2 separate regions of the Homo sapiens genome follow, and region 1 is linked to region 2. Evidence: fine-mapped expression QTL. A gene starts in region 2. The other region holds a variant in brackets. All regions are shown on one strand. Distances are between the middles of the regions.

Evidence for each region. PIP is the estimated chance that this variant, and not a neighbour inherited with it, causes the effect.
Region 1: its variant is fine-mapped to the expression of SPTSSA in thyroid (GTEx, PIP 0.97).

The regions. Positions count from the first base shown.
Region 1 is chr14:34,378,065-34,380,980 of GRCh38, forward strand. No RefSeq gene overlaps it. Among named protein-coding and RNA genes, the nearest start is that of SPTSSA, 83 kb to the right of the region's middle. The variant A/T (reference allele first, on the strand shown) is at 1,707.
Region 2 is chr14:34,460,961-34,463,876 of GRCh38, forward strand. SPTSSA (serine palmitoyltransferase small subunit A) reads right to left here and starts at 1,280. Exons shown (of 2, transcript NM_138288.4): 1 at 1,136-1,280. The coding sequence starts at 1,247. RefSeq lists enhancers at 493-602, 1,143-2,093 and silencers at 1,003-1,172, 1,293-1,802.

The DNA.
Region 1 (2,916 bases), 83 kb before region 2:
GTCTCAGTCTCCTTCTGCACCCATTCACAGCCAGTTCTCCAGACATACTCGATTGCTGTGGTGACTCTGAGTACGTGCTGTCCTCCAGAGCCACTGGGCCTGCACACATGCCATTCTCTGAGCTACATACTATCCCCTCCACCTCTGTAACAACCCCTCCCCACACACTCCTCCTAGAGAAGATATGTCTGTTGGAAAGCTTTGTCTGCATTGCCCAGATCTACTAAGAAGCTCCATTTCTCCGATTTTCTCATTGGTCCAGATATATAACCTCATGAAAGCAATTTATTTCTTTGTATTAAATTATTTGTTTATGCAACTGCCTTCCCTGCTGACTATGAGATTCTTAATGACATGGACCTTGTTTTTAATTTGGCTTTTTTTAAGTGCCTAGTCCATTCTGAGTTTATAGTAGGCACTCAACAATTGCTTATTTTAAAATTGACAGTCATCCCAGTGAAATTGTTTATTTCTTTGTTTTTAAGGACTTTAATTTCCAAATTATAAAGAGCTATGACCAGCTAAAAATAGGAACAAGAAAAGAGACTGGGAATGTGAGCGACTGCAGGAAATGAATTATTTGAAAGTCAAGCCTTTGGCCTTTTCCTTCTCAACGATGAGATAAACCCCAGCCTTCAAAGAATGTTGGGTAAAGTGGGGATGGGTGGGTTAGGGGGTTGAAATGCAAAGCAGGAAACAAGCTCATTTTGGATATCAAATTAATTGTATTGGACTAAGGAAAATTTACCCACACCCCTATGTTCTAACTCTATGATTTTAAAAATACAATATTCTATGCACACAGGAGGTGGTAACCAATGGGAAAAGGAGGAGACTGGTGCCTTCTCAATCTCTGACAAACAATCCAAAGATTGTAGAGATCCAAACAAAAGGATCTCTACATGAAGCACTATTGATACCAAAGAATCTGGCCTCGAGGAGGGATTCTCCACATTTTGCATACCACCAATCACTCTCAAAAAGCCGAGGTCCCATCCACTGCATAGCAAAAGCCCATTTCTGTTTTGTTTTGTTTCTGAGACAGAGTCTCGCTCTGTCGCCCAGGCTGGAGTGCAGTGGCGCGATCTCGGCTCTCTGCAACCTCTGCCTCCCAGGTTCAAGTGATTCTCCTTCCCCAGCCTCTGAGTAGCTGGGATTACAGGCACGTGTCACTTCACCCGGGTAATTTTTGCATTTTTCGTGGAGACGGGGGTTTCACCATGTTGGCCAGGCTGGTCTCGAACTCCCAACCTCAGGTGATCCACCCACCTCGGCCTCCCAAAGTGCTGGGATTACAGGCGTTAGCCACTGCGCCCTGCCACAAAAGCCCATTTCTTTAGAACACATTTATATGTTTAACTTCTTCTTATAATTATGTTTATGATACAGAGTAAGCTTCAAGAACAGAACAACAACAAGGCAGTGGGATTGTTGGAGCGAATTCCATTATGACTTCTTGCTAGCTGTATGAGAACACTGTGGCCAGAGCTCAGGAGGCCTCCAGGGAATACCTTGCTCTGGGAAACACAGGCTTTGATTCAGGCGGCATTGAGAAATCCTTTGAGGGAGACCTCCCATCTGCTGATGAGAAGAATGCTTCCCTCTCATTCTTGGCACCCTCACTTGGCTGGCAAGGTCAGGTGTGTTTTTCCAGTGACTAGCTCACAGCAGGGATAGAGGAGAGAAGCCCTTGGGGGCTGAGAGAC[A/T]AAGGGAACCAGACTGCCCAGCGTCTGGTCAAGGTTTCCAAGGTCTTTTTCAAGGTTTCGTTTCCCAGCACTCTGTCTTCAGTTTACCAAGAAAAAGTTCGTAAAAAGAACCTCTTTAGTGGCCTTTGAAGAAGGATAGAGAGAGGGAGGCAGAGTCCAAGGGCCCTGTGAGCAGAGTGGGAAGGACATGGAGAACAAAGAGGCTCACATGATGGGGTAACTAGGGATTGAAGATATCAATCACCTTTGAGAAATAAAGTAGAAAAAGAGAGAGAGGGGAGGAAACACACAAATACCAGAATGGACTAGTGTATACCAGCTATTCAGCTAAAAAATGAAGAAAGAAAATGGACAGCCAGAGACAGCCTTTGAGAAGTTTGTTGAAAAACTATTTTAGATGAACTACCATAAAAGTACTGTTAACAAGTAGGAGAATTTTAAGGGGAACATTAGAAATTCAGCCTCCTGCATTCGTTTGTAAGGGACAAGGAACTAGTCACGCAGTGGAGATGAGAGATAAGCCAGGAATGAAATGAAAACTTTGAAAGTTCCATGCATAGGGATAGCAGGATAATGATTTAAAGCATGAAGGCAGTAATTTAGGTCTAAAATGTCACCACCATTAATTGTAAGTTTTATTGTAGTCTGTTAGGGAAGAGTTCTCTGGGGATTATGAATAACTGCTTCTTGAAATGGAAACTGCAAAAACAATTGACATTTCTACAATCCTTAAGGAATAGAACTTTGAGAAAAATGACTTCTCAGGTGGCTATCTGAACATCAGTGTCTGAATAACTAACATTCATCCTTGCTTTATGTCACCCTCATTAATCAGTTCATATTAAAGATAACGCCATACATGTAATTATAGGCATAGCATTACGTTAAGCATTTAAGACTATCATATTGCACCATATCTTGGCCGTGGTGATGTATGGCCCCAATTTGAGAACACGTGTCAATTTTCCATAGATTTTCATCTGTATTCATGACTCAAGGGCCTTTAGCAAATTAATAATCAAAAGAATTTACAGTAGGCTGCTTTGTAAGTCCACACTTCATTACTTAGCATACTTCTCACTTGTTTTAGCTCTTAAAAACTTGTTCAGCTTCCTAAAAATATGCTTAACCTATTTTCCAATTGCCTTTGTTCCCGTGCTAGATGTTTGTTTGTTTGTCTGTCTGTCTGTCTGTCTTTAGAGATTTGGTA
Region 2 (2,916 bases):
CAAAAGACTCAGCTTTGAGTACAACCTTAAGCTATCTCAAAACAAATAAACACACTTGATAAGGCTTAGAATGAAATTACCTCAGTCACTCACTGGAATGCAACAATGCATTCGCAAAGTTATTCTGAAGTAAGCTACTCCAACTAAACCACACTGAAAAGGAGAGAACGTGGATAAACTAAACATGTTTTGTGAAATACCTGTTTTGTATTGGCCTGAGTTTTTTAAAAGTTACATCTCATTCATTATCAGTATTTAATCTGCAAGAATATCATCAAAGGATGTCAATATGGACAAGCAGAGACAAGAAACATCAGACTTTCAGGGAGCCTATCTTCACAACCCTGAGTTATTAACTGAAGTTCTCAAAGTTAGATGAGTTAAGATACAGACAACGTGCTTTGCACAAATGCTTTGCTTATAGTAACCACTCAATAGTCATTAACAAGAATTTATTAACTATCCACCAAAACACAGTTTCAAACCCTACCGACAACTAACCACAAATTGCACCACTTTTCGGGCCGACTTCTACGGACGGTGCACAGAAGCAATAAATACACTTTTAAAACTCCCCAACTTGAAGACCAAAAAGATACAATAACTTAAACTGCTTTCAAAAACTACTGGAGTGTCATGCCTACAAATTCAGAACCTGGCTTAAAAGCTAGTTAACTGACTAGAATTCTTGGTAGACCCAAAGCCAACTAAATCAGGAACACTTAAAGGTCAAAGGCGTCCAAGCCGGGAGCGATGTGCTCCACTGTTACATGATCCCCGCCTCCTACAGGAACAGGGGACTGAACCAAAGGCAGTTGCGGCCGAAGTGCAGGCGACACACAGGGTTACACATCACCTTCGGAGATTTCCTCCAGGAATCAAGACGCTTCCCCCTTGGGTCCAGCGACTCACAGGTGACCCCGGATCTCAAGAGTTCTCGTCTCCCCCACCCCCCACTTAACCCCGCGAGCGCCGCCCTCGGCCCCCAGACCTCCCCCTGCACCCCCGGCTTCCGCGCACAGGACCGGCGGGGCCGCCGCTCCAGCCTCCACCCCAGGCCCGGGGCCTGGGGAAATGCGGCCCCGCGGCCCGCGCCCCCAGCCCGGCCCCCGCGCGCGCGGCCGGGACAGGATACTGAACACCGTCCGCTCCCAGGGCTCCAGCATGTAGAGCGCCGTGACCAGCAGGTACTGGTAGTAGAACCAGGACATCTGCTTCCAGGCCCGCGCCAGCGCCATCCCCGCCATGCGCCTCCCGCGATGCAGCTCACACGTCAGTCTGTCCGGCCGGCCGCCCGCTCACGTCCTAAAGCCCCCGGCCGCCAGGCCCGCCCGCCCGCCACCCAGCGCCCATTGGCCCGCCCGGCCCCGCCGTCACCCGCGGCACGCCCAGACCCGCGCGCGCCCCGGCCGCCGGCCCCCAGCCCCGCCCGACCCGCGCTCATTGGCCAGGCCGCTACCTCGCGTCGCGTCGTCCCCTCCCGTTTCCCCGCCCGGGCATCGCCCACGCTAGCCGGAGAACGGTCCCCGCGAGAGCGCCCAGCCGCGCCCCACCCCGCCCGGGCCGGCCGGTGGTGGGCGGGGCGTCAGTGCCGGCCGGGGTCCCGGGGCCCCCGCAGCCCAGCGGGCGCTCGGTCCGTCCAGACTGGCCCAGAGCGCTTGCGGAAGAAATATTTCTGGAACACTTGTTATGCCTCAGGCATCCTTCTGAGAAGGAGGATTGCCAGGGAGAACCGGAATGCCTTCGGTTCCTTACCTTGTGCAGCTGGCGGCCTAGCTGGGAGACAAGCATTAATCAAGTCGTGATCCGTGTAAGAGGAGATAAGGGGCTGAGAGAGGGTGAGGAGGCGAACGCCACCTAATAAGGAGGTCTGGAAAGGCGTCCTTGTAGAAGGGATGCACATTCGGCCTCCTTCCTCCCTTCCCCCACCCATGCACACACACACACACACACACACACACACACACACACACACACACACCCCTAGACGGACATAACCCATGCACTCCCTAACCCAGAGACCACTTACCAAAAACATCTATCTGCCCACCTCTTAGTGGCTGTAGGTAACCACCAAGTGGGTCAAGGCCAGAAGCGCGCTGATCTAGTGGGTTCTGCAGAAGACAGGCAGCTTGAGATTGGTGTGAGGGCTGGTGATACTTCCCTAGAGATGCACTCCTGGATGCCCAGATTTTCCCACTGCCAGATGGGCCAGCAACATTGCACTGGCCACAAGGAGCTCCATGCACTGGTGTAGCATGTGAACTGCCACAATTAAATGGCCTGCTGTTTAAATGTTAAAAGTCTTCCAGGTTAAACATACTACTGCTTAAACTTTAAAAGTTTCATGGTTAATAACTATTCATTAAAAGTACCAAGTGCCGGCCAAGCGCCGTAGCTCATGCCTGTAATCCAAGCACTTTGGGAGGCTGAGGCTGGCGGATCACTTGAGTCCAGAAGGTCGAGACCAGCCTGAGCAACATGGTGAAACCCCGTCTCTACCAAAAAAAATAAGTAAATACATAACAAAAAGTTAGCCAGGGGTGGTGGCGTGCACCTGTAGTCCCAGCTACTCAGGAGGTTGAGGCGGGAGGATTGCTCGAGCACGGGAGGTCGAGGTTGCAGTGAGCCAGGATGGTGCCACTGCACTCCATCTTAGGTGGCAGAGCAAAAGAAAGGAAAGAAAGGAGACAGAGAAAGAGAGGAGAAAACAGAAGAGAAGAGAAGAAAAGAAAGAAAACAGTAAGTAATATCAAGTGCCAGACATTGGGATAGCAAGCCAGATAGACTGAGACCTGCCTTCATAAAGTACCCAGTCTGCTGGGGAAGAGAGGCAAGTTAATGGATTACAGTGAGGTGTGGTAAATGATATTTTTGTGGATCGTATCCTTTAGGATACCAAGATAGCCCAGACAA